Linked DNA regions of Homo sapiens: regions 1, 3 and 4 are each linked to region 2. The links come from fine-mapping of genetic effects on gene expression. A gene starts in region 2. Each other region holds a variant in brackets. All regions are shown on one strand. Distances are between the middles of the regions. Region 1 overlaps TNFRSF9 (TNF receptor superfamily member 9). Region 2 holds the start of UTS2 (urotensin 2). Region 3 overlaps ERRFI1-DT (ERRFI1 divergent transcript). Region 4 has its middle 42 kb from the start of TNFRSF9.

Region 1 (8,098 bases), 68 kb before region 2:
CTGGCTAATTTTTGTATTAGAGATGGGGTTTCACCATGTTGGCTAGGCTGGTCTCGAACTCCTGAGCTCCGGTAATCTGCCCACCTCGGCCTCCCAAAGTGCTGGGATTACAGGCATGAGCCACCGCACCCAGCCTATAAACTTAAAAAAAATTTTTTTTAACTTTTTGACTCTTTTGTAATAACTCTTAGCTTAAAACACAAGCACATTGTACAGCTGTACAAAAATATTTTCTCTTTATTTCCTTATTCTATAAGCTTTTATCTATTTAAAAGTTTTTAAATTGCTTTTTACTTTTTAAACTTTTTTTGTGAAAAACTAAGACACGAACACACTTATTAGCCTAGACCCACACAGAGTTGGTGTCTGCCACCTCCACATCTTGTCCCACTGGAAGATCTTTGGGGCAAAAACATGCATGTAGCTGTCATCTCCTATGAGAACAATGTCTTCTTCTGGAATACCTCCCAAAGGACCTGCCTGAGGCTGTTTTACAATTAACTGGTTTTTGTTTGTTTGTTTGTTTGTTTGTTTTTTGTTTGAGAGGAGTCTTGCTCTGTTGCCCAGGCTGGAGTGCAATGGGGCGGTCTCGGCTCCCTGCAACCTCTGCCTCCCGGGTTCAAGGGATTCTCCTGTCTCAGCCTCCCGAGTAGCTGGGATTACAGGTGCATGCCGCCATGCCTGGCTAATTTTTTGTACTTTAGTAGAGACAGGGTTTCACCAAATTGCCCAGGCTAGTCTCAAACTCCTGAGCTCAGGCAATCCACCTGCCTTGGCCTCCCAAAGTGCTGGGATTACAGGTGTGAGCCACAACACCCGGCCTTAACTGGTTATATATATATATATATATATATATATATATATATATATATGGAATATACTATGAAATAACTATAAAAAGTATGGTATAGTAAGTCCATAAACTACTAACATAGTCATTTATTGTCATTGTCAAGGATTATGTGCTGTACATAATTGCATATGCTACACTTTACACAACTGGCAGCTCAGTAGGTTTTTTACATCAGTATCACCACAAACGTGAGCAATGAGCTGTGCTGCAATGTTATGATGGTTGGACATCACGAGGCAATAGGAACTTTTCAGCTCCACTATAATCTTATGGGACCACGATCATATATGCAGTCTGTTTTTGACCAAAACGTTGTTGTACGCTGTATGACTGTATTCTAATGCAGGAACATAGTATGTCTCTTCATTTATACATTTTAAAATTTATTTCACCAGCATTTTGTAGTTTTCACTATACAAGTTCTGTATGTGTTTTGTTAGATTTAGGCCTAAGTAAAAAAAAAATTTTTTAGAAGTCAGGGTCTTGCTTGCTCTATTACCCAGGCGGGAGTGCAGTGGCATGATCACGCCTCAATGCAGCCTCAACTTCCTGGGCTCAAGTGATCCTCCCACCTCAGCCTCCAGAGTAGCTGAGACTACAGTCATGTGCCACCACCCCTGGCTAATTTTTAAATGTTTTGTAGAGACAGGGTCTTGCTCTGTTACCCAAGCTGGTCTAGAACTCCTGGACTCAAGCGATCCTCCTGCCTTGGCCCCCATAGTATTGGGATTACAGGCGTGAGCCCCCACACCCAGTTTCTGGATCTAATTTAGATCTTGTATTTTCTCAGGGTTCCTCTGACATCACTCTAGGGAAGGAAGGAGGATGGGCAGCTCGTTACGGCCAGGCAGGGGTGGAGGAAGTTTGGGTTCTATGCTATACCTCCTGGAGGGTGAGGGTCTCCTTTTTACTGCTAGACACGTGGGAGTTCTAGCTCCCACTAGGCCTCCTCTGACACTACCCCAGGAGGGAGGGGGAGATGAGCCTTAATCAGCCGTGAGGGTGGAAGTCCAGGCTCTCTACTCAGTCCTTCCTGGTGGGCTTGCAGGCGGAGCCACGGTGTTTTTTGTGGTGTTTTGTTAGAATTGAGTGGTTATTGTCTAGAAGTTTTTGGACCAGGTGTGGTGGCTCACGCCTGTAATCCCAGCACTTTGGGAGGCCCAGATGGGCGGATCATAAGGTCAGGAGTTTGAGACCAGCCTGGCCAATATGGTGAAACCCCATCTCTACTAAAAACACAAAAATTAGCCGGGCCTGGTGGCGGGCACCTGTAGTCCCAGCTACTCAGGAGACTGAGGCAAGAGAACCGCTTGAACCCAAGAGGCGGAGGTTGCAGTGAGCTGAGATCACGCCATTGCACTCCAGCCTGGGCAACAGAGTGAGACTCCATCTCAAAAAAAAAAAAGAAAAAAAAAAGAAGTTTGTAGTCTTGCTATGCTGCCCCTTTCCTGGTCTCATAACTAGAGAGTACAAGCTCCTCTTAGTTTTTTATGTGTTTTTTTGAGATGGAGTCTTGCTCTGTTGCCCAGGCTGGAGTGCAGTGGTGTAATCTCAGCTCTCTGCAACCTCTGCCTCCTGGGTTTAAGCCATTGTCCTGCCTCAGACTCCCGAATAGCTAAGATTACAGGTGAGCGCCACCATGCCCAGCTAATTTTTGTGTTTTTAGTAGAGACAGGGTTTCGCCATGTTGGCCAGGCTGGTCTCGAAATCCTGACCTCAGATGATCTGCTTGCTTTGGCTTCCCAAAGTGCTGGGATTACAGATGTGAGTCACCACGCCTGGCCTCTTCTTGGTTTTTGCTTTGTTTTGTCCACGCTATTGGCATTTTTAGAGTGCTGCTTCTCTAGTTCCCAGTCAGAGGGAAATGAGGCAGAAAGAAACCCATTGCCATGTTGTTTCTTGGGTCTGGAGATCCTGACCCAATTGGCCTTCCTCTCTCTGCCTTTCTGAGAGGTTTTCAGCAGTACTCAGCAGGACAAATACGGAAAACATGACATCTCAATCTTTCCAGAAGAGATCTCCATTTTGAAATTCAACCTGGGAACAATTTCAAAAGACATCCCGTTGGTATTTCTGAACATCTTGCCAGTTTTTCATAAGTTCTAGGAGATGGTGTGGTTATTTTTTATAGCAACAAGCATATGAAATCGGGGTAGGACTTTTTGCCTTGCCAGTCTGTAAATAAATATCTGCTTAGGATTGAAATTTGCGGAGCAGTAACACAAATACTTCACTAACATGTAAAAGAAAGCCTGGCAGCTCACGCACAGATCGGTTCTTGGTTCCTAACAGATGGAAGCAGTGGGGATACCTTCACAATCCTGGAGTCATAACACTGCATTCCAAGGAAACCATCGGATCTCGAATCTCAGTAACCCTCAAGACGAAAATAAGTGCTGCTGAATTGAAACTAGAGCTATGATTGGGATATGGCTAATATTTTATGGTTTAGTGATTCATGCTTAAGATTCATGCTTTTTTAGCTAATGTAGAAAATAAAGAAAATAGTTCTTAAAGACCAATACAAATATTTGGTAAGAGGAAACAAATTTCAAATAATCTCTAGAGGAAGTTCATCCTTGCTGTTACCTCTCTTGTGGATGAGTTTGTTAAAATTATTATTACTATTATTATTATAATTTTTTTTAGATGGAGTCTCACTCTGTCACCCAGGCTGGAGTGCAGTGGCGCAATCTCAGCTCACTGCAACCTCCACCTCCCAGGTTCAGGCGATTCTCTGCCTCAGCCTCCCGAGTAGCTGGGATTACAGGCGCCCACCACCACGCCCAGCTAATTTTTTTGGTATTTTTAGTAGAGACGGGGTTTCACCATCTTGGCCAGGCTGGTCTTGAACTCCTGACCTTGTGATCCACCGGCCTCAGCCTCCCAAAGTGCTGGGATTACAGGCATGAGCCACTGCGCCCGGCCTGTTTTTGTTTTGTTTTGTTTTGTTTTGTTTTGTTTTGTTTTGTTTTTTGAGACAGAGTTTCGCTGTTGTCACCCAGGCTGGAGTGCAATGGCGCCATCTCAAGTCACTGCAATCTCTGTCTCCTGGGTTCAAGCAATTGTCCTGCCTCAGCCTCCTGAGTAGCTGGGATTACAGGCACCTGCCACCACGCCCGGCTAATTTTTGTATTTTTAGTAGGGATGGGGTTTTGCTATGTTGGCCACGCTGGTCTTGAACTCCTGACCTCAAGTGATCTGCCCACCTCGGCCTTCCAAAGTGCTGGGGTTACAGGCATGAGCCA[C/T]CACGCCTGGCTGAGTTTGTTAAAATTAAAGGGGAGAATGTTTGCTGCTTAGAGATGTTCTGCAGCTATAATTTATGGAAAATAAGTGTTAAATGATTCAAATAGACAACAAAATATACGTATCTTAAAATTTTTTTTTTAGCATTTATGAGACCAGTACAAACTACTCAAGAGGAAGATGGCTGTAGCTGCCGATTTCCAGAAGAAGAAGAAGGAGGATGTGAACTGTGAAATGGAAGTCAATAGGGCTGTTGGGACTTTCTTGAAAAGAAGCAAGGAAATATGAGTCATCCGCTATCACAGCTTTCAAAAGCAAGAACACCATCCTACATAATACCCAGGATTCCCCCAACACACGTTCTTTTCTAAATGCCAATGAGTTGGCCTTTAAAAATGCACCACTTTTTTTTTTTTTTTGACAGGGTCTCACTCTGTCACCCAGGCTGGAGTGCAGTGGCACCACCATGGCTCTCTGCAGCCTTGACCTCTGGGAGCTCAAGTGATCCTCCTGCCTCAGTCTCCTGAGTAGCTGGAACTACAAGGAAGGGCCACCACACCTGACTAACTTTTTTGTTTTTTGTTTGGTAAAGATGGCATTTCACCATGTTGTACAGGCTGGTCTCAAACTCCTAGGTTCACTTTGGCCTCCCAAAGTGCTGGGATTACAGACATGAACTGCCAGGCCCGGCCAAAATAATGCACCACTTTTAACAGAACAGACAGATGAGGACAGAGCTGGTGATAAAAAAAAAAAAAAAAAAGCATTTTCTAGATACCACTTAACAGGTTTGAGCTAGTTTTTTTGAAATCCAAAGAAAATTATAGTTTAAATTCAATTACATAGTCCAGTGGTCCAACTATAATTATAATCAAAATCAATGCAGGTTTGTTTTTTGGTGCTAATATGACATATGACAATAAGCCACGAGGTGCAGTAAGTACCCGACTAAAGTTTCCGTGGGTTCTGTCATGTAACACGACATGCTCCACCGTCAGGGGGGAGTATGAGCAGAGTGCCTGAGTTTAGGGTCAAGGACAAAAAACCTCAGGCCTGGAGGAAGTTTTGGAAAGAGTTCAAGTGTCTGTATATCCTATGGTCTTCTCCATCCTCACACCTTCTGCCTTTGTCCTGCTCCCTTTTAAGCCAGGTTACATTCTAAAAATTCTTAACTTTTAACATAATATTTTATACCAAAGCCAATAAATGAACTGCATATGATAGGTATGAAGTACAGTGAGAAAATTAACACCTGTGAGCTCATTGTCCTACCACAGCACTAGAGTGGGGGCCGCCAAACTCCCATGGCCAAACCTGGTGCACCATTTGCCTTTGTTTGTCTGTTGGTTTGCTTGAGACAGTCTTGCTCTGTTGCCCAGGCTGGAATGGAGTGGCTATTCACAGGCACAATCATAGCACACTTTAGCCTTAAACTCCTGGGCTCAAGTGATCCACCCGCCTCAGTCTCCCAAGTAGCTGGGATTACAGGTGCAAACCTGGCATGCCTGCCATTGTTTGGCTTATGATCTAAGGATAGCTTTTTAAATTTTATTCATTTTATTTTTTTTTGAGACAGTGTCTCACTCTGTCTCCCAGGCTGGAGTACAGTGGTACAATCTTGGATCACCGCCTCCCAGTTTCAAGTGATCTCCCTGCCTCAGCCTCCTAAGTAGCTGGGACTACAGGTATGTGCCACCACGCCTGGCTAATTTTTATATTTTTAGTAGAGACGGGGTTTCACCATGTTGTCCAGGCTGGTCTCAAACTCCTGACCTCAGGTGATCTGCCCACCTCTGCCTCCCAAAGTGCTGGGATTACAGGCATGAGCCACCATGCCTGGCCATTTCTTACACTTTTGTATGACATGCCTATTGCAAGCTTGCGTGCCTCTGTCCCATGTTATTTTACTCTGGGATTTAGGTGGAGGGAGCAGCTTCTATTTGGAACATTGGCCATCGCATGGCAAATGGGTATCTGTCACTTCTGCTCCTATTTAGTTGGTTCTACTATAACCTTTAGAGCAAATCCTGCAGCCAAGCCAGGCATCAATAGGGCAGAAAAGTATATTCTGTAAATAGGGGTGAGGAGAAGATATTTCTGAACAATAGTCTACTGCAGTACCAAATTGCTTTTCAAAGTGGCTGTTCTAATGTACTCCCGTCAGTCATATAAGTGTCATGTAAGTATCCCATTGATCCACATCCTTGCTACCCTCTGGTACTATCAGGTGCCCTTAATTTTGCCAAGCCAGTGGGTATAGAATGAGATCTCACTGTGGTCTTAGTTTGCATTTGCTTGGTTACTGATGAGCACCTTGTCAAATATTTATATACCATTTGTGTTTATTTTTTTAAATAAAATGCTTGCTCATGCTTTTTTGCCCATTTGCAAAAAAACTTGGGGCCGGGTGCAGTGGCTCATGCCTGTAGTCCCAGCTCTTTGGGAGGCCAAGGTGGGCAGATCGCTTGAGCCCAGGAGTTCGAGACCAGCCTTGGCAACATGGCGAAACCCTGTCTTTACAAAAAATACAAAAATTAGCCGGGTGTGGTGGTGTGCACCTGAAGTCCCAGCTACTCAGTAGGTTCGCTTTGAGCCTGGGAGGCAGAGGTTGCAGTGAGCTGGGACCGCATCACTACACTTCAGCCTGGGCAACAGAGAAAAACCTTTTCTCAGAAACAAACAAACCCAAATGTGGTTGTTTGTCCTGATTCCTAAAAGGTCTTTATGTATTCTAGATAATAATCTTTGGTCAGTTATATGTGTTAAAAAATATCTTCTTTGTGGCCAGGCACGGTAGCTCACACCTGTAATCCCAGCACTTTGCGGGGCTGAGGTGGGTGGATCATCTGAGGTCAAGAGTTCAAGATCAGCCTGGCCAACACAGTGAAACCCCATCTCTACTAAACATGTACAAAACTTAGCTGGGTATGGTGGCGGGTGCCTGTAACCCCAGCTGCTCCAGAGGCTGTGGCAGAAGAATCGCTTGAACCCAGGAGGCAGAGGTTGCAGCGAGCCAAGATTGTGCCATTGCACTCCAGACTGGGTGACAAGAGTGAAATTCTGCCTATCTATCTATCTATCTATCTATATCTATATATATATATATATATATCCTTTGTAATTTATTTTTCCCTTTTTAAAATTTTTTATAAAATTCTTTTTTATTTTTATTTTTAGCAGAGGTGAGGTTTCTGAGGTTTCATTATGTTGCCCAGGCTGGTCTTGAACTCCTGAGCTCAAGTGATCCTCCCACCTCAGCCTTCCAAAGTGCTGGAATTGCAGACATGAGCCACCGCGCCCCTCCTGTTTTTCTCTAATTAATGGTGTCTTTCTTTGTCTTTCTGGTAATAAGCAAAAAGTTCTTCATTTGATTTGGTTAAATTTATAACTGTTTTCTCATATGGTTAACATTTTTTCTTGCCTGGCTAAAGAAATCCTTTTCTGCCCAATACTATAAAGAGGTTTGCCCACATTTTATTCCAAAAGTTTTAAGTTTTGTCTTTCATCTTGAAGTCTAATGTATCAGGAACTGGCTTTTGTGCCTGTTGGGAGGTAGTGATCCAATTCCATGTCTTGCATGTAGGTAACCACTGGTCCCTGCGCCATGTATTCAATACGTCGTCTTTCTCCTGCGGGTCTGCAATCTCACCTACCATCCATCAAGTTTCCATAGGGCCATGGGTCTGCTTCTGGGCTCCCTGTTCTGTTCCATTGTCAATTTGTCTATCCTGTGCCAGTATCACACTGTGTTTATTACAATAGCTTTGTAACAGCTCTCGATATCCGGTAGGACATCTCCCTCCACCTTCTTTTTCTACTTCAGAAGTGTCTTAGCTAGGTCAGGCACGGTGGCTCACGCCTGTAATCCCAGCACTTTGGGAGGCCGACGCGGATGGATCACCTGAGGTCAGGAGTTTTGAGACAGCCTGGCCAACATGGTGAAACCCCATCTCTACTAAAAAATACAAAAATTAGTCAGGCATGGTGGCATGTGCCTGT
Region 2 (8,107 bases):
ATAGTAGTAACTACCTGATATTCTAGTTCTTTTATTATATTTTCCAAGTTTTTATAATCTTTTGGTTACTATTTTAATGGTTACCAAAATTACATTTTGATACTTAATGCACTTATTTAGGGCATTGAGGCCAAAAGGTTGAATTACAGGAGAGATGGAGGATTGTGGGGAGAGCAAGGGTGAGTAGGGAGAGGAAGGAGGGAAGAGGGAGGAGTCAAGTCACTGAGGGCAGAGGGCAGAGGTCAGAAGGCCAGTGGGATCCTGGTCCCTGCTCCTCCACTTTTCCTGGGATTCTGGAAGCTATCCAGTGTCTTTCCAACATGCTTCACCTTCCTTCCTTCCTTCCTTCCTTCCTTCCTTCCTTCATTCCTTTTCTTCCTTCCTTCCTTCCCTCTCTCTCTCTCTTTCTTTTCCTACAGAGTCTTCCTTTGTGGCCCAGGCTGGAGTGCAATGGCACGATCTCGGCTCACTGCAACCCCCACCTCCTGGGTTCAAGCAATTCTCCTGCCTTAGCCTCCCAAGTAGCTGGGATCATAGGCGCCCACCACTACTCCCGGCTAATTTTTGTATTTTTAGTAGAGATGGGGTTTCACCATATTGGCCAGGCTGGTCTCAAACGCCTGGCCTCAGGTGATGCACCTGCCTCGGCCCCCCAAAGTGCTGGGCTTACAAGTCTGAGCCACCGTGCCCGGCTGTTTTCTTAAATTGGATGGAAGTGGTTTCTCTTGGACGTTAGGTTCCGTCCTCTGTCCGACCCTGCTGGCACATGGGGGTGCTGAGAAATATCTGTCGAAAGAGTTAACAAGTCTTAAGTGATTCGAGCACTTTCCATCTTAGAGGACAGTGTGCGAGCACTCGCCCTGGGCTCTCCTGCCAGCAGGGGTCCCCCAGGGACTCTCTTCACTTTATTTGCCCTCGCAGGAATCTTCTTTCAGTTCCTCCTCCTCGGAGGCCACGCTTCCCCGACTTCTCTCGCTGGAGGCTCCACACTCCACTCACCACTGAACGGATGGCTGCCCTGTTCCTTTCGGCTCCTGCTCAGATGCCCCTTTTCCAGGGCATCCCGAGGGCCCTGTCTGAAATCACACTTGCCCTGACTACCTGCCCCTGTACTGTCTCCTTGTTATTGTTCTTCATAGCAATAAACAATTCCTACAGCGTATGTTAATGTTGTTGTCTATCGCCTCCAGTCAGAAAGTTCATGAGAGTAGAAACTTTTTATTTTGTTCACCGTTCTTTCCCCTAAACAGAGACTCCCATAGGCTGGTGCCCCACTCACTGATTCAACAAATATTTATCGAGTCTGCCTACTATAAAGGATAAATACATAAAATAGTGCGATAGCCAGGTGTGGAGGCTCACACCTGGAATCCCAGCACTTCCGGGGGCCGAGGCAGGAGAATCTCTGGAGCCCAGGAGTTTGAGGCCAGCCTGGGCAACATAGCAAGACCCTGTCTGTACAAAAAATAAAAAAGCCATGCATGGTGGTTTGCGCCTGTAATCCCAGAGGGTTGGAAGGCTGAGGCTGAGGCAGGAGGATTGCTTGAGGTTAAGATTTTGAGACCAGCCTGGGCAACACATTGAGACCCCATCTGAAAAAAAAAAAACTAGCTGAGCGTGGTGGCATGTGCCTGTGGTTCCAGCTATTTGGAAGGCCAAGGTAGAATTGCTTGAGCCTGGGAGGTCAAGGCTACAGTGAGTCATGATCACGCCACTGAACTCCAGCCTGGGTGACAGAGTGAGATCCTGTCTCAAAATAATAAAATAATAATAATAATAATAATAATAATGGCCAGATGTGGTGGCTCACACCTGTAATCCCAGCACTTTGGGAGGCTGAGGCAGGTGGATCACTTAAGGCCAGGAGGTCAAGACCAGCCTGAAGTCCTTTTCAAACCTTTTGTCATATTGCCCAGGCTGGAATACAGCAGCATGATCTCAGCTCACTGCAACCTCCGACTCCCAGGTTGAAGCTATCCTCCTGCCTCAGCCTCCGGAGTAGCTGTGACTACAGGGGCCCGCCACCACGCCTGGCTAATTCTTTTATCTTCTGTAGAGACAGGGTTTCACCATGTTGGCCAGGCTTGTCTCAAACTCTTGACCTCAGGTGATCTGCCCGCCTCAGCCTCCCAAAATGCTGGGATTATAGGCGTGAGCCACCGCGCCTTGCTCGGCTTTTTCATTTTCTTACCAGTATCTTGAGCAAATGTTTCTAATTTTGATAAAGTCCAATTTATCAGTTTTGTTCATCTATTGATTAATTTACAAAAATGGTATCTATGGTATACATCATGACTTGTTTGTTTGTTTTGAGAAGGAGTTTTGCTCTTGCCACCCAGGCTGGAGTGCAGTGGTGTGATTTTGGCTCACTGCAACCTCTGCCTCCCAGGTTCAAGCAATTCTCCTGCCTCAGCCTCCCAAGTAGCTGGGACTACAGGCACCTGCCACCACGCCCAGCTAATTTTTGTATTTTTAGTGGAGACAGGGTTTCACCACATTGGCCAGGCTGGTCTTGAGCTCCTGACCTCAGGTGATCCACCTGCCTCGGCCTCCCAAAGTGCTGGGATTACAGGTGTGAGCCACTGTGCCTGGCCATGATTATTATTATTATTATTATTGTTATTAGTTTGATGTTTTGATATATGCATACATTGTGGAATGGCTGAATCAAGCTAATTCGCATGTGTATTACTTCACGTTTTTAGCATTTTTTTGTGATGAGAACACAAAATCGATTTTTAGAAATCTTCAACTATACATTGTTATTAATCAGAGTCACCCTGAGGTACATAGATCTCTTGAACTTATTCCTCCTGTCTCAATTTTTTTCCTGTGTGATTTGTGTCTTGTCTAAGAAATATTTGCCTAACCTGAGGTTGTGAAGGTGTTCATGTTTTTTCCCCTAGTAGTTCTATCATTACGTTGTAACCACTTTTCTTTCTTCTTTTTTTTTTTTTTTTTGAGACATGGTCTCGCTCTGTCACCCAGGCTGGAGTGCAGTGGGACGATCTTGGCTCACTGCAGCCTCAACTTCCCAGGCTCAAGTGATACAGGCATGCACCACCACACCTGGTTAATTGTTGTATTTTTGGTAGAGACAGTGTTTCTCCTTCTCTTTTTTTTTTTTTTTAGACAGAGTCTCGCTCTGTCACCCAGGCTGGACTGCTGTGGCGCAATCTTGGCTCACTGCACCCTCCGCCTCCTGGATTCAAGCAATTCTCCTGCCTCAGCCTCCTGAGTAGCTGGGATTACAGGCACGTGCCACCATGCCTGGCTAATTTTTGTATTTTTAGTAGAGACGGGGTTTCACCATGTTGGTCAGGCTGGTCTCAAACTCCTGACCTCGTGATCCATCCGCCTCAGCCTCCCAAAGTGCTGGGATTACAGGCGTGAGCCACTGCACCCGGCCGAGACAGTGTTTCTCTATGTTGCCCAGGCTGGTCTTGAAATCCTAAACTCAAGTGATCCTCCTGCCTCGGCCTCTCAAAGTGCTGAAATTACAGGCATGAGCCACCGTGCCTGGCCTATCTTTGTAACTTTTGTGTTTAGGTCCACAGAAAGTTTTGAGCAAAGAACTACCATGATCTGACTTATGCAGATGCTTCTGGCATCACTCTGCTGTGCTGAGCCTGTGGCAGGCCCGAAGGCAGACTTCAGGACGCCTGTCGGGGACCTTTCCACCCATCCGGGCTTGGACCAGCTTGGGCAGAGTACAGTTGGGAGTAGAGGCCACATTCTGGAAATGTTTATCAGCGAGTTTTCTGGTGTTAAGTCCTTCCTCCCTCCTTGCTGAATAATAATCAACTTTATGAAGTTATTTCCTTTCTCTGAAGATTGAAGTGCTTGCGGCTTCACATGAGGCCACGTGTATGTACAGAATTGTCTTGAGCCTGGAGCAATGTTTGCTATGTATTTTAACTTTTCACTGTTTTAAAGGAAATAGCTGGTTTTACGTTTTAATCCACAGATTGTCATTCTTCAGGGATGGCAGCCCTAAACACAGCATGGCAACTCATCTACTCACTCATGAAAGATTAAAAAATGGAAACCAACGTATTTCATCTTATGCTCTGCGTCACTTCTGCTCGGACTCATAAATCCACGTCTCTTTGCTTTGGCCACTTCAACTCATATCCAAGCCTTCCTTTAATTCATGATTTATTGCTGTAAGTTGCCTCTTTTGCCAGATTTATAAACTCACTGTTCTTTATATAATACCTACTTTGTACACTAGGCAACAAGACAGTTAATTTATTGTCTATGACTTGTTACCTTGAAAAATTACATCAATGCAAAGTGATTGCCTTTTAGCCTCCATAGCCAATAAATTCATTTTTTTTTTTTTTTTGGAGAGGATGATGTCAGGTCATAGGATGATATATATAATCAGTGAGCAGGCAGAATGAGGAGACAGTTGAAAGTTCTCTACAACAGAAGCCAAGAAGGAAGCCGTCTATCTTGTGGCGATCATGTATAAGCTGGCCTCCTGCTGTTTGCTTTTCATAGGATTCTTAAATCCTCTCTTATCTCTTCCTCTCCTTGACTCCAGGGAAATATCCTTTCAACTCTCAGGTAAGATTTTTTTTTTCCCCTTATGTTAGTCTTGAAAGAGCCTTTACTAGTCTTAAATTCAATGTTAGAGATAAGAATGGGATTCCTGCTCGAAGGAGTCTGGAGTCTTGTTCTCTCAATAGTCCCAGCTTTGAAAAGAATATTAAAGGATCCTTACTGCACATTTTAGATGTAGTAATGGATACAGTTTTTTTTCTGTCTCTACAATGTAAAAGGAGAAGAGGATAATTGCTTGTTTCATGTTACCTCTGTACTCTTGTTTTGGGTAATATATACATTTTTCCAATTTTAAAAATTGCATGAAATTTAAAACATCATTACTTTTAGTTTTTACTTTAAATGAACTGGTTGAATGTAGCACTGGTTGTTCTAATTATAGATTATTAATGGATTTATTTGTTTCACCTTTTGTTTAAAAAAATCATCTGATATGTGTTCTACGAAACAAAAATGTTTACTAAAAATTTTTTAGTAAATGACAAACTAGGGAACTAGGGAGTTCATAGACTTCCAAGTATATTGATCGTTTCCTTTTGATTTATGTTAATTCAGTTTAAGTCTAAGTTGAGTTAAAGAAATACACATCAGTCAAGTAGTTTCTCATTTTGCCATTATCTTTCCATTTAGTTAGAGAAATGAGAAAGCTAATGCTTGGGGATTAGGTTCCATCAAAAACTTAACTAGATTTAATCTTATCTTTAATCTTGAGTACTTTTTAAATAGGCTTTTTTTAAATAAAGAAAAAAAACAAACAAACCCTCTTTTAAGCCAAGGATTTTATAGTTTCTCGTCTCTAAAAGTTCATCCCAAGCAGCTTTCTGATGATCGTCAAGCACTGTCATCAGGCACTGCCAACCAACTTCCCGAGTCACCGAGATGATCATTGGCTGTCCTACTAATAGTTAAACACTGGCATTAACTTTACTGAATCTCTGCTATTTACAAAGAAACAGCACACATCTCAAGATGAAATAAGTGAAAATACTCAGCTACTACTGTCATCTTAAAAAATTTTACAAGTAATTTAAGAAACATAGATGAAATGAGTGTAGCATCTCACACAAATTCGAAACAAGTGGCAGCTTATCGCAGAATTTGTTCTCATTTATTTCTCCAGAAATGTGCTTTCCTATCAGCATTTACAGATGATGAAATTTTATAGATTTTCATTAACAGTCTTTAGAAGTGCTGTGAATGTGCTCTGATGCCTTTATGATGATCTGCTCACTGTCCTCCAATCAAGGTTGCAGCTATTTGTAAGCCTGTGGCACGCTGGTCCCACACATGGCCTCCCACCCTGACTCCCACAGCCTCGAATCGCAACACAGCAGCAGGTCTGCACTTACCACGCCTCACACTCCGGTGTGCCCTTTCCACACACCTTAAGCGCACTTACCATGCATTCTATATGCCATCTGGTCGACCACATTTCACATAGGAAATGCCACAATCAAGTTCCTTACAGATGATTTTGAAGCCAATTCTAAGTATAATAATTGTATTGAAATCTTGAAGTTCAGTAAAAGAAGAGGTGATACCATCCTACTGGCTTTATAGGAAGATTGTAAACGATCTTTCTTTTTCCTCTCCAATGTCACCACCCAAATATCTAAAAGCAAAAAGGCAGTAGGCAGCAGTAGATAAGCAGAAATGAGGGAGAGTCAGACTTTTTGAACCAAAATGGTTTTGAGAAAGGCTGTGGCTTATCCCTCAGCTCTTGTTCGAGGCAGCCGAGGGGCTTGGCTCATCACGCGGGTGTCAGATCCACGTCTCCCGGCTTCCCATTCTGCTGGCTGGCACACGGGCTGGTAGCATTTCCACCTCTTCTAGAATACCACTGATGACACGTCATGAACTCAGCGTTGGAAGTTTTTCTAGTGTTCATCTCCCTATCTCTGGTGCTCGCCAAAGACACAAGGAACAGAAATAACTAACTGAAGGATGAACCCAATTCTAAGTATCTGTTTTTACTCTGTAGCACCTCATGAAGACGCGCGCTTAACTCCGGAGGAGCTAGAAAGAGCTTCCCTTCTACAGATACTGCCAGAGATGCTGGGTGCAGAAAGAGGGGATATTCTCAGGAAAGCAGGTAAAATGCTTCTCATGTTTATAGCGTGTCTGATTTAATTGCTACTGAACTTACCGTCTGTCCTCATCTAGAAGAGGTAAAGCTCTATTTTGGAATATAAAGATGAGCTATATAAAATAAGTAATTACCAACACTCTCCCCTCCCGGCCTGTGCAACCTTCTTTTCCCCAGCAGCTCCTTGCTCGCACTGTGCTCTTTGGTACCTCAGCATTTTGTCTTTCTGTGTGGACTTTTATTTTTGCGGGGTAGAGCTTGGTGGTAATTATTCCAGTTTCCAGTGAGTGCAATTTAAAATCCTAGTTTCCCGTTTACTGAAAACTTAAAGTAATCTTTCTGTACTCCAGTTTCTTAATCTGTAATCAGGAATGATTAAGTTTCCACCTCAGAAGGTAACTTGTGAAGAGTCAATGAGTCAAGGCAAGTAAAATGCTCGAGTCACACAGAAAGTCATTAATAAAATGTCAGCTTATTCCCCCGTGGCCACATTCCCCCAAGCATTGACACATATGCTCAGGAAGTTCTGGAAACAAAATTGAGCCTTTTGCTGGGTGCGGTGGCTCACACCTGTAATCCCAGCACTTTGGGAGGCTGAGGTGGGCGGATCACTTGAAGTCAGGAGTTTAGGACCAGCCTGGCCAACATGGTGAAAACCCATCTCGACTAAAAATACAAATATCAGCCGGGCATGGTGGCGGGCACCTGTAATCCCAGCTACTAGGGAGGCTGAGGCAGGAGAATTGCTTGAACCCAGGAGGCAGAGGTTGTGGTGAGCCAAGATCTCACCACTGCACTCCAGCCTGGGCAACAGAGCAAGACTCTGTCTCAAAAAAAAAAAAAAAAATTTGAGCCTTTTAAGATAGGTATTGTTTAATAGACAGGAGTTCATTTGTTATAAAATATCTTTGACGAGCTACTGGACTGCGAAGTTACTGAGGACAATGCAGTGACTTCTGTGAATTCGAGATAAGAACAGGAGTGCCTGTCTGTCTGCATTCAAGAAAAGCTTGCTGCAGTGTGGAAAAAGACCAGAAACTAGACATAATTTAGTAATATTATTTTGTATATTTTAAAACAAGCATACAAGAGAAACAACAGATCTGATGAACTGGCTTCAAAACTGTTTTTCAGACTCAAGTACCAACATTTTTAACCCAAGAGGAAATTTGAGAAAGGTAAGTGACTCTATTTATGAGTTAGGTTTAAAAAGGTGAACATTCTGTACTGGTTTTACAGGACTCTGAATTCATGAACTAGAGGAGTGTTCTTGGTGGAAACCACACCTTAAAATAATTGGCCAGCATGACCAGGCGCGGTAGCTCATGCCTGTGATCCCAGCACTTTGGGAGGCCGAGGCGGGCGGACCACCTGAGGTCAGAAGTTCGAGACCAGCCTGGCCAACATGGTGAAACCCTGTCTCTACTAAAAATACAAAAATTAGCTGGGCGT
Region 3 (8,107 bases), 250 kb before region 2:
ATTGATCAGGAATTCTCCTTTCTTGTACCATTCTTGCCTGCTTTTTTAGTTTTGTGCTTATACAAATTGATTTGGGTCTCAATTCATTAGGGAGTCTTTTCTTCATTCCTGTGACTTGGAAGAGTGTGCGATACTGAGATTATTACTTCTTTGAACAGTTGGTAAACTTACCTGTAGAAATACCTGGGCTCGATAGTTCCTTGAGGAGAGATTTTATTGTCTGTTTCAATTTCTTTGTTATTTTTTTTAGAAACAGGGTCTTGCTCAGTTGCCCAGGTTGGATTGCAGTGGCACAATCACAGCTCACTGCAGCCTCGACCTCCCAGACTCAGGTGATCCTCCCACCTCAACCTCCTGAATAGCTGGGATTATAGGCACGTGCTACCGCCCCTGGCTAATTTTCGTATTTTTCGTAGAGATGGGCTTTCGCCATATTGTCCAGGTTGGTCTTGAACTCCTGGACTCAAGTGATCCTCCTTGGCCTCCCAAAGTGCAGGGATTACAGGCATGAGGCAAGGCACATGGCCTGTTTCAATTTCTTTAATGGGTTTAGAACCAGGCAGGTTTACTATTTCTTCCTGAGTCACTGTTGATAAGGTATCTTGCTCTGGTAACTTATCAGTGGATAGTCTTAAAGATGTTTACAGGGTCCTCTTATCATTTGGAGCTCTGCTGGGCCTGTATTTATGGGTCCTATTTCAGGCTTGACTTGGTCCTTCTCTCTTCTGGCCTTGATCAGTTTTGCTGAAGTGAGTGTTTCTTTTTTTGGTCTTTTCGAAGAACCCATTTTTCCTTATGAATCCTTTCTATTTCTTTGTTATCGATTTCACTGATTTCTGTTTTTATTTTGAGTATTCCCTTGTTTTTACTTTCTTCACATTCATTCCGAAGTCCTTAATCCAATTTGTTACACTGAATGCTTGGCTCACTAATTAACAGCAGCAGTTCCTTTCTAATATAAAGAAACATTTACGGCTAAAATTTTTACTCTAATTATTGCTTTAGCAAGATTCTTCCAGTTCTAATGTGTAATTATTTTTCTCATTCACTCTCAAATACTTCCTTGTTTCTATAATGATATTTTATTTTATATTACATTATTTAGAAACTTTTAAATTTCTAAAAGTATGGGGAATTTTAGGTACAATTTTGTTTTGTTTTGTTTTGTTTTTTGAGTCGGAGTATCTCTGTTGCCCAGGCTGGAGTGCAGTGGTGCGATCTCGGCTCACTGCAACCTCTGCCTTCCAGGTTCAAGCGATTCTCCTGCCTCAGCCTCCCGAGTAGCTGGGATTACAGGCACACACCACCATGCCCAGCTTTAAATGTCCCACTTCTTAATACTTTTGCATTGGAGATCAGGTTTCAACATAGGAATTTTGGGGGATGGGAGAGGCACAGACATTCAGACCACAGCATAGCATGTGGTTATTGCTTTTTATTGCCAAATAACACTCCTGTGTGGATGTACGTGACATTTTACTTATCCATTTATCTGCTGATGGACATTTGGGTCGTTTCTGCTTTTTTACTATTAGGAATAATGCCGCTATGAGCATTTGTGTACAAGTTTTTCACGGACATATATTTTCGTATCTCTTGGGTACATAATTAGTTGTGGAATTGCTGGGTCATATGGTGACACCATGTTTAGCTGTTTGAGGAACTTGCCAAACTGCTTTGCAAAGCAGCTGCGCCATCTTAAAATCCCACCAGCAGTGTACAAGGCTTTCAGTTTCTCCACTTCCTCATTGGCACTCGTCATTATGTCTTTTTTATTATTGCTTAGTCCTTTTTGCCCAACAGCTTGTACTGCGCTTGACACAGGGCATGTACTTAAATATTTAATTACAAACAATGTAATGATCTTTCTAATTACAGCATGTTTTAATTCTCATGTGTATGTTATATACATTATGGTTACATATGTTATACACAATATGGCTAAAGTATTATTATATCTTGCACCAGTCATTAAATTCCTTATTTTAAGCTATACTGCTGTTTGGGTAGAAGGCGTGAGGGAAGAGGCAGGGAGCACGTCTCACCAGTGATAGTCACAGCCAATAACCTAAGCCACAAAGGGCCACATCCGTGATGAAGGACATATAGACCAATTCTTGTCATTACACAGGCCAAGATCTAATTTCTGGATAAAAGATTAGAAAAGATTTTCATTTTACTACAGACTGATGTAGCTGATGTTAGCAATGCAGTTCCATTTTTCTCAAAGGCATTTTATTACTGAGTCAATAAGATTATCTAAATTTTTTAAGTCTACATATTTTCTATGGGTCTCAAATCTATTCTGATTTTAAATAGGGACTTTTTTTAAAAATCTTTTTTCTTTTTCCTGACTTGACTTCATGAAAAATAGGTTGTCACCACAGGACTAGATAACCATGTATTAGTCAACAATGTTTTTCCTAATAAGGAGTCTCACACTGGAATCCAAAAAAAAATTTTTTTTTTTTTGAGACGGAGTCTCATTCTGTCACCCAGACTAGAGTACAGTGATGCAATCTCTGCTCACTGCAACCTCCGACTCCCGGGTTCAAGCAATTCTTCTGCCTCAGCCTCCCAAGTGGCTTGGATTACAGGTGCCCGCCACCACACCTGGCTAATTTTTGTATTTTTATTAGAGACAGGGTTTCACCATGTTGGCCAGGCTGGTCTCAAACTCCTGACCTCAGGTGATCTGCCCACCTCGGCCTCCCGAAGTGCTGAGATTACAGGTGTGAGCCACCGTGCCCAGCCAAGGAAACCAAAGTTAAGAACAGAAACTCTGCACGGCCTGAGAGTCTTGGTTCAGGAAGAAAGAAAAGGTTTACATTTTAATAGCAAGGCCATTTTGGTGTTTGTCCTGAGAGCCAGAAAGACAAGTGATTTGCTAAAATTGTTCGTTTATTCATTGGTTCACCCAATATACATTCAATAGCATGAAAATATACTTTGTTTCCAACACACCTGCAGATGGTCCCCAGCATGGTCTGACTTGGTTACTATGACCTACGGATCTCCTTCCTGGGTTATAATCAACACCTCAGACAGCATCCTCCTCCTAAATATAGTTTAAATTATATTACCTTAAATATAGGTTCCCTATGCTCATCCACATGATGCTCATTAATATTTATCCAGTCACTCATGCTTCCCTTGCAACTGGTCCCCATGACCTGGAAATTTGAAGCAACCACAGCCATATTGCTTTTTGCAGACTGTTTATTTGGTGATCAAAACAAGTGTGTAGCACATTATGGGTCCTCAATAAACATTGAAATAATAACAGATTCCATCCTTAATAATCACTGGCTTCAAAAAATTAATGAAGCAGTTGCCTTCATACCTCCATATGGTCAATAGAAACTGTGATTACTTGCTGCCACGACCTCTATCTGCAAATGACACTATGGAGTTAGATGATTGGGAACACGTGTCTCAGCTTTGTGTCAAGGTTTGACTTCAGGCACGCCAAGGTGTGTCTTAAAAGGTAGATCAAGTGGCCTGGCACGGTGGCTCATGCCTGTAGTCCTAGCACTTTGGGAGGCCTAGGCGGGAGGAATGGTTGAGCCCAGGAGCTCGAGACCAGCCTGGGCAACGTGGCAAAACCCCATCTCTACCAAAATACAAACATCAGCCAGGCATGGTGGCTCGTGCCTGTGATCCCAGCTACGCAGAGTGGGAGAATCTCTTGAGCCAAGGAGGTTAAGGCTGCAGTGAGCCGCGATGGCACCACTCACTGTACTCCAGCCTGAGTGGCAGAGCAAGACCTTATGTCCAAAAAAAAAAAGGTAAACCACTGGATGCAGGAAGTAGGGCTCTCTGTTGACCTGAGGGCTCTAGGCAATGTCTTAATCTCAGTCTTGTCAGCTTTGACTTTTGTCCCTAGTGAAAGGGCTTGTGTTTCCTCTTTCTGTCTAAGGGGAATTCTCCTTACCTAACATGCTGTTTCTCCCCAGCCCGTGCACTTCCTTATTCTGCAGCCCCTTCTAAACTCTGGGCGAATGGCAATGATTGGAGCAGAAGATGGGGATAATGACGTCACCAGATGGGAGTCATTTGCTGAAGCTGGGACTCATGTGGGGTTAGGGGGCGGCAATATGGCAAGGAGCAAGGCTGCCATGCATTACAAAAAATCATTATAATGGCCCCTCAAAAAAATTTGAATAGATGAGCCTTGTAGACATTATGCTAAGTGAGATAAGGCAGTCACAAAAAGACAGTCACTGTATGATTCCACCTACATGAGGTACCGAGAACAGCCAAATGAATAGAGACAGAAAGTAGAATGGTGGTTGCCAGCGGCTGCAGAAGAGGGAGTGGGGGGTTGTTTAATGGGCACACAGTTTCAATCACGCAAGATGAGAAAAGTTCTGGAGGTTTAAACTCAACCTCATTAAGGTATAATTTACATACCATAAAATGTATAAACTTTAAGTATGCAACGTGAGTTTCGACAGATGAATATGTACACCCATGTAACCATCATCACGATTAAGCTATAGAATATTTCTGGCTGAGCACAGTGGCTCACGCCTGTAATCCCAGCACTTTGGGAGGCTGAGGCAGATGGATCACCTGAGGTCAGGAGCTTGAGACCAGCCTGGACAACATGGTGAAACCCCATCTCTACTAAAAATTAAAAAATTAGCGGAGTGTGGTGGTGCATGCCTGTAGTCCCAGCTACT[C/T]GGGAGGCTGAGGCAGGAGAATCACTTGAATCCGGGAGGCAGAGGTTGCAGTGAGCTAGATTGTGCCACTGCACTCCAGCCTGGGCAACAGAGTGAGACTCCGTCTCAAAAAAAAAAAAAAACCCACCCACACACAAAAAAAACAGATAAAGGACATTTCTATCACCCTAAAAGGTTCCCTTACGTCCCTGCCTGGTAAATCTGGACCAACCCCTCCTGGCCCAAGGCAACCAGAGACCTGTCTTCTAGATTTGCTTTTTTTTTTTTTTTTTTTTTTTTGAGACAGAGTCTCACTCTGTTATCCAGGCTGGAGTGTGGAGACACGATCTGAGCTCACTGCAACCTCCACCTCCCGTGTTCAAGTGATTCTCCTGCCTCAGCCTCCCAAGTAGCTGGGATTACAGGCACCCATCACCACGCCCGATTAATTTGTGTATTTTTAGTAGAGACAGGGTTTTACCATGTTGGCCAGGCTGGTCTCGAACTCCTGACCTCAGGTGATCCATCTGCCTTGGCCTCCCAAAGTGGTGGGATTACAGACGTGAGCCACCACACCCGGCCCTAGATTCACTTTGTCTTTCCTAGAGTTTCATATAAATAGAATCATACAGTAGATACCCTGGCTTCTTTCACTGGGCATGTTTTTAAAATCCATCCATATGAATCATTAATTTGTTCCTTTGTATTTCAAAATAATCTCATTTTTATAGACATGTCACAATGTATTCATTCACTGTGGATGGGCATTTGGGTTGTTTCTGGTTCTTTGACAATTATTATGAATAAAGACTCAATGTCTTTATTGGTAAATGTCTTTATGTGAGCCTGTGCTATCACTTCTCTTGAATAAATGCCTAGGAGTGGAATAAAGTCACATATATAACTTCATAAGAAATGGTGGAGCTGTTATCCAGAGCGGTCTTACCATGTTGAATGACGACCGTAAACATACGATAGTTCCAGGTGTTCCACATTCTCACCAGCACTTGGTATTGTCATGTTCTTAAATTTTAGCCTTCCAATGGGGTTTTAGTTTGTATTTCCCTGATATCTAATGATATGGGGCATCTTTTCATGAGCTTGCTGTACTGAAAATACTGTCTCCCAGTCTGTGACCTGCCTTGTCATTTTCTTAACAGTGTCTTGCCAAAATCAAAAGTTTTTAACTTTGAAGTCTATTTTCAATTCTTTTATAGTTCATACTTTTTATATCTAGCTGAGAAATCTTTGCCTATTCCAAGGTTACAAAGATTTTTCTCCTATATATTCATCTCTAAGTTTTATGTTAAGGTGTATGATCCATTTCAAGCTAGTTTTATGTAAGGTATGAGATAAACATCGGGGCTCCTGTTTTCCACGGAGATGTCCAGTTTTTCCTGCATAATTTGTTGAAAAGACTGTCTTTCCCCTCAACTGAATTATCCTGGCTACTTTGTCAAATATCAATTTACTAGGTATATGTGGGTCTGTTTTCACTTTTCTGTTCTATTGAGCTGTCTATTTGTGTAGTGATACCACACCGTCTTAATTACCGAAGCTGAATATTAAATCCAGAAATCAGGTAATATGAATTTTCCAATGTTGTTCTTTATTTTCAAAATAAGTTTATTGGGTTCTTTGTGGGCTCTTTTTGTTTCCACATCAATTTTAAGAGCAGTTTACCATTTGCTACAAAAGCTTTGCTAAAATTTTACTTGGCATTGCATGGTCTCTACAAATTAATTTGGAGATAATTGACATTTAAAAAAATATTGAGTCTTCCCATCCACAGCATGGTCTAGCTACCTATTTATTTCTATATTTTAAATTTTCTCTTAGCAGTATTTTAGAGTTTTCTATAGATTGGTTTTATTCTTATTTTCTTAAGATTATCCCTAAGTACTTCATGATTTTTGAAGCTATTGTAAGTGGTATTTTTATCTGAATTTTCAATTGTTTGAAAATTGAAAAATTCAATTCTCAATTGAATTTCAATTTGTTACTATTACATATAGAAATTTAACTATTTTTTGCAATTGTATATAGAAATTTCAATTAATATTGACCTTGTATCCTTCAACCTTAAAAAACTCACTCTTTATAGCTAATAACATGTTTTGTTTTGTTTTGATTTTGGTAGATTCCTTTGGATTTTTTATGTTCAAGATTATGTTGCTTGTGAGTAAAAATAGTTTTACATCTTTCCAATATGTGTGGGTTTTATTTATTTTTCTTGCTTTATTGCACGAATGAGGACCTCCAGTACATGTTGAATAGCAAAGGTGAGCGTGGACATCCTTGTCCTTTCCCAATCTCAGGGAAAAGCAGTGTTTCACTATTAAGGATATTGTTAGCTGTAGGGTTTTTTTGAAGCTGTCCTTCATTAGGTTGAGGCAGTTCCCTTTTATGACCAATTTGCTGAGAGTTTATGAGTGGGTATGAAATTTTTTCAGAAGTGTTTTCTTTTCGGGGGAACGGGGTACATCTACTGAGATACTGTGTAGAGAAGAGTTAACATGGCAGGGCTGGGACTGCTCTCCTTTGAAAGTCCTGTTTGCAGCCAGGTGCGGTGGCTCACACCTGTAATTCCAGCTCTTTGGGAGGCCAAGGAGGGCTGATCATTTGAAGTCAGGAGTTTGAGACCAGCCTGGCCAATGTGGTGGAACCCCATCTCTACTAAAAATACAAAAATTATCTGGGTGTGGTGGCAGGCGTCTGTAATCCCAGCTACTAGGGAGGCTGAGGCAGAAGAATCACTTGAAGCCGGAAGGCAGAGGTTGCAGTGAGCTGAGATCCCACCACTGAACTCCAGCCTGGGCAACAGAGTGAGACTCCATCACACACACAAAAATAATAATAATAATAATAATAATAATAATAATAAAATCAAAAATAAAGAAAGTCCTGTTTGCAAATGTTAGCCTTTGGCTGGCATCTGCGACTTAGATTTTAGGAGGGTTCCCGTTATTCCCAGGCCTCATGAGAGTCTCACGTTGCCTAACCTGTTTGGTACAAACCATGTGGTTTACGCTGAACACCTATTTTCCTTTTTTGAGGGGAGTCTGGAATTTTGGTATGTGCCATGCAAAGGTCGCCTATGTGACCAGCCCCTTGTGAAAACCCTGGGCTCCGAGTCTCTGCAAGTTTCTTAGAAGACAACATTTCACGCATGTCACAACTCATTGCTGAGGGAGTTCAGCACGAGGAAATGAATTTTGGAAACTCACACCAGACTTCACCCCAAGTGCCTTTTGACTTCGCTGGTTTTACTTTGTGTTCTTCCTCTGTGATAAATCTTAGCCATGAGCATGACTAGATCCTGAAGCCCGTGAGTCCTCTCTAGGAGGCGAATCTGGAGGAGGCCTTAGGGACCACCAACACAGATATCAGAAATTTTTTCTCCTTTATTCTGTGAGTTACATCAATTTAGTTTGAAAATTAAA
Region 4 (8,107 bases), 46 kb before region 2:
GAAGGAGGGGAAGCAGGAGAAGGAGGGGAAGGAGGGGAGGAGGGGAAGGAGGGGAAGAGGGAAGGAGGGAGGGAGGGAGAAAAGCCAGACAGTAAACTGGAGAACAAAAAACGCTCTACCACAAGAGGGCAGTAGACACCACCAGCGCGCAGGCCTCCCTCGGGATCAAAGGGAAGGCTCTGAGCGCGGAAGGAACCCCGCATTCTCTAATTTAGGCCTCTTCTTCAGGGATGGGAAGGAGATGGCTAAAGAGGTTCAGCGACTTACCTGAAACCACGCCGCCAGTGGCCCGCCTCTGTTAAAGGCTAACGTGCCGCCTAATTAAAGGGAAGGAAATAGGAGGCGCTGGCCGGGGAAGCTGGCTCACTTCTTCAGCACTTTGGGAGGCCGAGGTGGGAAGATCACGTGAGGTCAGGAGTTCAAGACCAGCCTGGCCAACATAGCGAGACCCCCGTCCCTATAAAAAATTAGATTAACAACAACAAAAAGAATTAGGAGGCTCCTTAGTAGGGACGCCCTTCCCCCATAACTTAATAGTCCAACAATGATGTGCAAGTCGCCAAAAGAAAGAAAATGTATGGGGAGTGGAAGTATAGAAAAAGCCGCACTGACGACCCAGGCCATCTTTAGGCCCCTGTGATGTGAATGGGAATGATTTTCAGAGTCTTTACCAAAATGACTACATTGTCAGAACTTCCCCGACTTCCCGCTTTCCCCCAGAGAATCACCCCTTCCCTGTTGAGGAGACAGGCAATCTGCCCAGAGCCCAGAGAGAAGATAATTTCTAACTTCCATACAAAAAAGCAGGGTGGTCCCATCAGGACAAAACTCTCCCTGAAGGAGTCAGGTCTGTATAACCCTCACCCGGGGGCAGAGATAGCCTGGAGCCCAAAGGCTGTGTCTGATCCCAGACCCTGTTGTAGGAGCTGGTGGGGAATTGCCACCCTCCGCAGTCCTCCCTACCCAGAGCCACAGAGCCCCAAAGCTTCCCTCCCAGCCTGGTGTTACCAGCGCTGAGTCCAGCCCTGCTCTCAGCCACCCCGGTCATTCTCTCCCACCTCATCCATCACCCTCTCCCTCGCACCCACTCCCTCTAGGGTCGCTGGATTTCCTTCTGCTCCTTGAATCCACTAAACTTTTCTCTGGCTTAGGACATTGGAGTTTGCTGTTCCTTCTTTCTCAAATGCTTTTCCCTACAGACCTCACACGTTCCGTGATCTGCTGGGCCAGTCTGTGTGGATCCTCACAGGCATCTCAAACCCAGGATGTTCCAAACTGGCCGAGGGTTTTTGTTTTGGTGGCACTGGATTGAACCATCTCCTCCACGAAGTCCATTTCCTCACACGAAGTCCGTTTCCTCATTTGTAAAATGAAGACAATAGCACCTACCTTACAGGCTTTTTGTGAGGATTAAATGAGAATATAAATATATATATACACACACACACACACACACACACATAGATGAATATATATACACATCCAAGTATATAGCAGCTGTATGTATATATTTACATACATACATATGTATATAGCATATACATGTATACATATAAAGCAAGTAGCACAGTGCCTGATCCATAGAACACCTCAATGAATGGAAACCTTTACAGTAAATGCTAACATTTTCCTCCATAAAGCAGCTCCTTCCACCTCCTCTCCAAGGCAGACATCAGATTAGTACCTTTTGACTCTTTCCTCTCTTTCACCACCCACATTTAATGAAACAACAAATCCCAGTGTGTATTTCTAGAATCCAATCCATTCTTCACATCCTACTCTCACTGTCCTAATTCATGCCTGTGTTATTTCTGGCCTGGATTACTGCAGTAGTCTTCCAATAGCCTGCTTCACATCCAAGCTCCATTACTTAATCTATGTAGAATGAAAGCTTACCATGCGATAACAGACTACTATGAACGGGTTTTTGCCAATACATTTGAAAACTCAGACAAAATGACCAATTCCCTAGAAAAAACGTAACTTACCAAAACTGACTTAAGAAGAAAGAAAATGTATGGATAGTCATAAAATGATTAGGGAAATTGAAACAGAAGTAAAAATCTTTGTCAAATTAAACTTAGACCTGGATGACTTTCCAGGTAAGTTCTCTTAAACTTTCATGGAGTGGATCATTCCTATTTTATAAAAACTCTTCCAGAGAATAGAAGAAAGTGGTTTATCTTCTCCTAGGTATTCTGTGAGGCCAGTGTAACCTTGATACTAAAACCAGGCAAGGACAGTAAAAGAAAAAGAGGCAAAAACATGAAACAATTTTTTTTTTTTGGAGATGGAATCTCACTCTGTAGCCCAGGTTGGAGTGCAGTAGCATGATCTGAGCTCATTGCAACCTCCACTTCCCTGGTTCAAGCAATTCTTCTGCCTCAGCCTCCTGAGTAGCTGGGATTACAGGCGCCAGCCACCACTGTGCCTGGCTAATTTTTGTATTTTTAGTAGAGATGGGGTTTTTGCCATGTTGGCCAGGCCAGTCTCGAACTCCTGACCTCAGGTAATCCACCTGGCTTGGCCTCCCAAAGTATTGAGATTACAGGCGTGAGCCACCACACCTGGCCAAAACAAAATATTAATGTGGTGTTTCATGCCCACACATTATTTAACCTACCTTGCTCGCTTCCTTCCTTCCTTCCTTCTTTCCTTCTTTCTTTTTTTGGAGACAAGTTCTGGCTCTGTCGCCAGGCCAAGTGTGGTGGTACAATCAAGGCTCACTGCAGCTTCCACCTCCCAGGCTCGGGTGATCCTCTCACCTCAGCCTCCTGAGTAGCTGGCAATACAGGCATGCACCACTGTGCCTGGCTAATTTTTAAATTATTTATAGAGAAGAGGTTTCACTATGTTGCCCAGGCTGGTCTTGAACTCCTGAGCTCAAGTGATCCTCTCCTGCCTTGGCCTCCCAAAGTGCTGGAATTACAGGTGTGAGCCATTGTGCCTGGCCATTCATTTGATATTTCTACATTCAGGAAGTGGAGCTAAGCTTTCCTCCACTTGAGCATGGAGTGACTTGCATCTGATGATTCCAGGTTATAAAAAGTCTGTGGCTTCCGGGTTGGGTACACTCTCGCTCTCTCTGCGATTGCTGTCTCTGGAGGAAGCCAATTGCTGTATCTGAGAGGCCTACATGTTGACAGTCACACAGTGAGCCTGGAAGCAGGTCTTTCCCTCGTGAAGCTTCCAGATGACTTCAGCTCTGACCAACACATTGACCACAACTTCCTGAGAGACCCTGAGCCAGAACTACATAGCTCAGCCACTCCTGGACTCCTGAGAAAACATGTTATAACAAATGCTTGCTGTTTCAAGACACTAAATTGTGGGATAACTTCTTACGTTAATATAGTTCACAAACAAAATCTAACAGTGTTTAAAAAAGATCATAAAGACAGGTGCAGTGGTTCGTGCCTGTAGTCCCAGCTACTCAGGAGGCTGAGGTGTGAGGATCACCTGAGCCTGGGAAGGTTGAGGCTGCAGTGAGTCATGATCACGCCACTGCACTCCAGCCTGGGCATCAGAGTGAGACCTTGTCTCAAAAAATAAAAAGGACTAGATAAGAACTTCCTTAACTGATAAGGGATATCTAAAGAAAAAAATTAGTAAACATTATTATTTTATTTTTTTAAAACACCTAACTGCATCGACTCAAAGTAAACATTATTCTTAATGAGAAAATGTTGAAAGTGTTTTACTTATGAGCTGAAACAG[G/A]ATAAAGATGGTCACGATCGCTGTAGGGTCCCTCAGGCCTCTGTTTTCTTTCTGTGTCCTTACCGAAAATCAGATTGCCTTGACTGCTCTCTGATATGGTTTGAATCTGTGTCTTCAGCAAATCTCTTGTCTAATTGTAATCCCCAATGTTGGAGATGAGGCCTGGTGGGAGGTGATTGGGTCATGGGGCGGATGCTGTTCTCATTATAGTCAATGAGGTTTCACAAGATCTGGTTGTTAAAAAGTGTGTGGCACCTCCCTCCTCTCTCTCTTCCTCCTGTTTTGGCCATGTAAGATGTGCCTGTTTCCCCTTCACCTTCTGTCATGATTGTAAGTTTCCCAGGGCCTCCCCAGCCATGCTTCCTGTACAGCCTATGGAACCTCGAGCCAATTCAACCTCTTTTCTTTATAAATTACCCAGTCTCAGGCATTTCTTTATAGCAGTGTGAGAATGGACTAATACAGTAACCCAGCCAACTGTATAGGTTTTGTCCAACAGGCTTGAACCCAAATCAGGGCCTTGAACATTTCCAGGCACTGATGAAAGTATCTAGGTTTACTTGAAAAAAACTGTCCCTAGCTCTGGACCAAACCTTCATATAACTCTATATTCTGGGAGGCCGAGGTGGGTGGATCACGAGGTCAGGAGATCGAGGCCATCCTGGCTAACACAGTGAAACCCCGTCTCTACTAAAAAATACAAAAAAATTAGCCGGGCGTAGTGGCAGGCACCTGTAGTCTCAGCTACTCGGGAGGCTGAGGCAGGAGAATGGCATGAACCTGGGAGGCAGAGCTTGCAGTGAGCCGAGATCGCGCCACTGCACTCCAGCCTGGGCGACAGAGTGAGACTCCGTCTCAAAAAAAAAACAAAAAACAAAACTCTATATTCTGAGCCCCCTTGCTGTGAGATACCTGGTCAGAGCACCCCTTCTCTCTCTGTCCATCTTGAGGGTACTCTGCAGTTCTCGGTATATAAGTTCCCCTAATAAATGCTTTTTTCCAGGCTGGCATTTAGTGCTTTTTTTCTTTGTAAATTTAACTGGCCTGATCTCAGGACAGCTTGCGGTACTCCTTTTTGGGAATTCCCCTGCCTCCACTTTTGGGGGTAACTCCAGCCACAGGTTTGGACAAAACAATCGCCACTTATATTTTACATGTATTGGGGTTTCTAGACAGTAACTTATGACAAGAAAAAAGAAATTTAAATTTTGAAGATTCCAAAGGAAGAAACAAAACCATTCTTATTTGCAGATGGCATGGTTGTATACATGGACAACCCTAAATCTGTAGAATACTAGAAATAACAAGAGAAGTTTATCAAGATGGTTGGTCATAATATTAATGTACATTAATCAGTTGACTTGTAACCTATTAGCAACAATGCATAGTAACAACAAAACCAGAAGGTACCTAGGAATGCTCTACCAAAAGAAGGATGCGACATATATAAAGATTATGAAACATGGTCGGGCACGGTGGCTAATGCCTGTAATCCCAGCACTTTGGGAGGCTGAGGTGGGTGCATCACCTGAGGTCAGCAGTTCGAGACCAGCCTGGCCAACATGGTGAAACCCCATCTCTACTAAAAATACAAAAATTAGCCGGGCGTGGTGGCGGGTGCCTGTAATCCCAGCTACTCAGGAGGTTGAGGCAAGAGAATTGCTTGAACCTGGGCGGTGGAGGTTGTGGTGAGCCAAGATCGCACCATTGCACTCCAGCCTGGGCAACAGGCTGAGCATAACTCTGTCTCAAAAAAAAATTATGAAACATTAATGAAAGACATTAAAGAAGACCTAAAAAATGGAGAGACATAATATGTTCATGGATAGAAAGCCTCCATATTGTAAAGATATCTTTCTCTCCAAATTGATTTATAGAGTCAGTACAGTTTCAATAAATGTCTCAACAGGGATTTTCAAGGAACTTGACAATATGACTCTAAAATCTTTAAAATTTATATAAACAAGCAAAGGGTGAAGAATAGCCCAGTCATTCCTAAACAAGAATAGGATACAGGGACTTTCCCTACCAGATAAACAAGCATTAAAAGATGTAGTAATTTACAAAGTGTGGTATCAGCAGAAGGAAAAAGAAGTTGACCAATGGAATGGGAATGGAGATCCCAGAAATAGATTTACTACACGTACAGTGATTTTCAAACAGGAATATCCCCAAGAACTCATTGTTAACATAGTAAAAAGTAAACAGATTCTTAGAAGCTATATAATGACTCAATGCACATCATCAAATATGCCAAGACAAAGAAAATGTAGAAACAGAAATCTCATGTAATTTGGAAGTGAAAATGACTCAAATATAATTTTATACATAATTTATAAAGCTTTTTTTTTTCAGCCAGGCACAGTGGCTCATGCCTGTAATCCCAGCAATTTGGGAGGCCAAGGTGGGTGGATCCCCTGAGGTCAGGAGTTCAGGACCAGCCTGGCCAACATGGTGAAACCCCATCTCTACTAAAAGAATACAAAAATTAGCCAGGCATGGGGGCACGCACCTGTAGTCCCAGCTACTGGGGAGGCTGAGGCAGGAGAATTGCTTGAACCTGGGAGGTGGAAGTTGCAGTGAGCTGAGATTGCACCACTGCACTCCAGACTGGGAGACAGAGCGGGACTCTGTCTTAAAAAAAAAAAGCTTCTTTTTCAATATACAGGTTCTGATGAACCTAATTGTCAAAGAAAAATTGAAAAAAGTCTAGCATCTGGCACAGAAAATCTTATCAGATATTACAGTGACTATATTATAAAAATTTTTACATAATAAAATAATTTATTTTTCTAAACCTATATGGAATAACATTTTAAAACTTCTTAAAGACTTCCTCAGGAACATTTCATTTTCCACTAAGAACAACACACACATACACACACAAATATTAAAATTGTATTCAAAGCCTATAATTTATACTTCAATATTATAAGATTAATGCTCAGTTACATGAATGTTTGGTAGAAATCACCTGTAAAGCCATCTGGGTTTAGGTTTAATTTGATGAAGTTTTAACCTCTGTCTTAATTAATCCATCTAGAACTGATTTTTATGTTTGGTGTGAGGTAGGGACACTTTTTTTTTTTTTCATGGATAAACATCCCTTCCCCACTTATCTGCAATATCACTTTTGAGAACTCAAGTATCTAATTACAGAAAAAATGAAAACACAGTTTTTGAGCTTAACTGAGATATTGAAGTTCAAATAACACCTAGAAAACAATTCTACTCTACACTGATAATATTTTCCTTGGGAAGCATTTTCAGGAGCATTTTCATTTGAAAGGGAGATGTGGCATTTGCTCCCTTTACTTCTGTTATCTTGTCTGATGACAGAAACACAGACTGTCATTTATCTCAAGTACTGATATAAAGGTGCATGTTGCATCTAGGGTTTAGCATATCCAGCACTGGCTTGGAAAATGGAGAGAACCCAGACTTTGTACCATAATGGCTTGACGCATATCCTCAAATATGCCGGGACTAAGAAAATGTAGAAGCAGAAACCTCATGTAATTTGGAAGTGAAAATCACTCAAATAGAGTTTTATCAATAATTCATAAAACTGCTTTTTCAATATACACAGATCCCATGAAGCATATCCAACTCTTTTATTTCAGTTACAAAATGAAATTCCTGAATGAACTTTAGCGATTTTTGAGTAAAAAGTTGAGATTGGGCAATTCAAGCTCTTGTTTGGCTCTTATTTTGAAGGAGGATTTTTCAGTTTCCATCACGTCAGATGGTAGTTATCTGTCAATTAATAATTGACAATTTACTGATTTTAAAACAAGCCTGCACTCCTCATCTTCCTTTTACTGAGATTTTCAGTCCTGAGAATTTTCTCCTGCACTAAGCACAGCAGCTTTGAATCACTCTGTTCCCTAAGAGTTAAAGGGAATAGGATTAAGGGGGAAAAAAGATCACTGTAGACATTTTCAGTTTAGGCCTAATTTTTATTTATTTATTTATTTTTTTGGGATGGAGTCTCGCTCTTATCACCCAGGCTGGAGTGCAGTGGCTCAATCTCAGCTCACTGCAACCTCTGCCTCCCGGGTTCAAGGGATTCTCCTGCCTCAGCCTCCTGAGTAGCTGGGATTACAGATGCCCACCACCATGCCTGGCTAATTTTTGTATTTTTAGTAGAGACAGGGTTTCCCCATGTTGGCCAAGCTAGTCTCAAACTCCTGGCCTCAAGTGATCCACCCATTTCAGCCTTCCAAAGTTCTGGGATCACAGGTGTGAGCCACCGTGCCAGGCCTAGGCCTAATTTTAACCGACAAATTGAGTCATATGCTGTCCTTATGCACAAAGCCGACGAAGAAGATACAAATTAAACATCTGGACAGATATAAAAAATAATAGAGGCAAAAAATAAGTAAAGGAT

What was found. PIP is the estimated chance that this variant, and not a neighbour inherited with it, causes the effect.
Region 1: its variant is fine-mapped to the expression of UTS2 in whole blood (TOPMed, PIP above 0.99).
Region 3: its variant is fine-mapped to the expression of UTS2 in whole blood (TOPMed, PIP above 0.99).
Region 4: its variant is fine-mapped to the expression of UTS2 in blood mononuclear cells (TOPMed, PIP above 0.99).

The regions. Positions count from the first base shown.
Region 1 is chr1:7,917,069-7,925,166 of GRCh38, reverse strand. TNFRSF9 (TNF receptor superfamily member 9) reads left to right here. Exons shown (of 8, transcript NM_001561.6): 8 at 4,244-8,098. The coding sequence ends at 4,332. Among named protein-coding and RNA genes, the nearest start is that of TNFRSF9, 20 kb to the left of the region's middle. The variant C/T (reference allele first, on the strand shown) is at 4,102.
Region 2 is chr1:7,849,366-7,857,472 of GRCh38, reverse strand. It overlaps UTS2 (urotensin 2), which reads left to right and starts at 4,408. Exons shown (of 4, transcript NM_006786.4): 1 at 4,408-4,572; 2 at 6,551-6,661; 3 at 7,790-7,833. The coding sequence starts at 4,470. RefSeq lists an enhancer at 4,200-4,888.
Region 3 is chr1:8,100,589-8,108,695 of GRCh38, reverse strand. All of the region lies in intron 2 of ERRFI1-DT (ERRFI1 divergent transcript), which reads right to left. Among named protein-coding and RNA genes, the nearest start is that of ERRFI1-DT, 78 kb to the right of the region's middle. The variant C/T (reference allele first, on the strand shown) is at 4,686.
Region 4 is chr1:7,894,961-7,903,067 of GRCh38, reverse strand. It overlaps a transcript of UTS2 not described here. Among named protein-coding and RNA genes, the nearest start is that of TNFRSF9, 42 kb to the left of the region's middle. The variant G/A (reference allele first, on the strand shown) is at 3,718.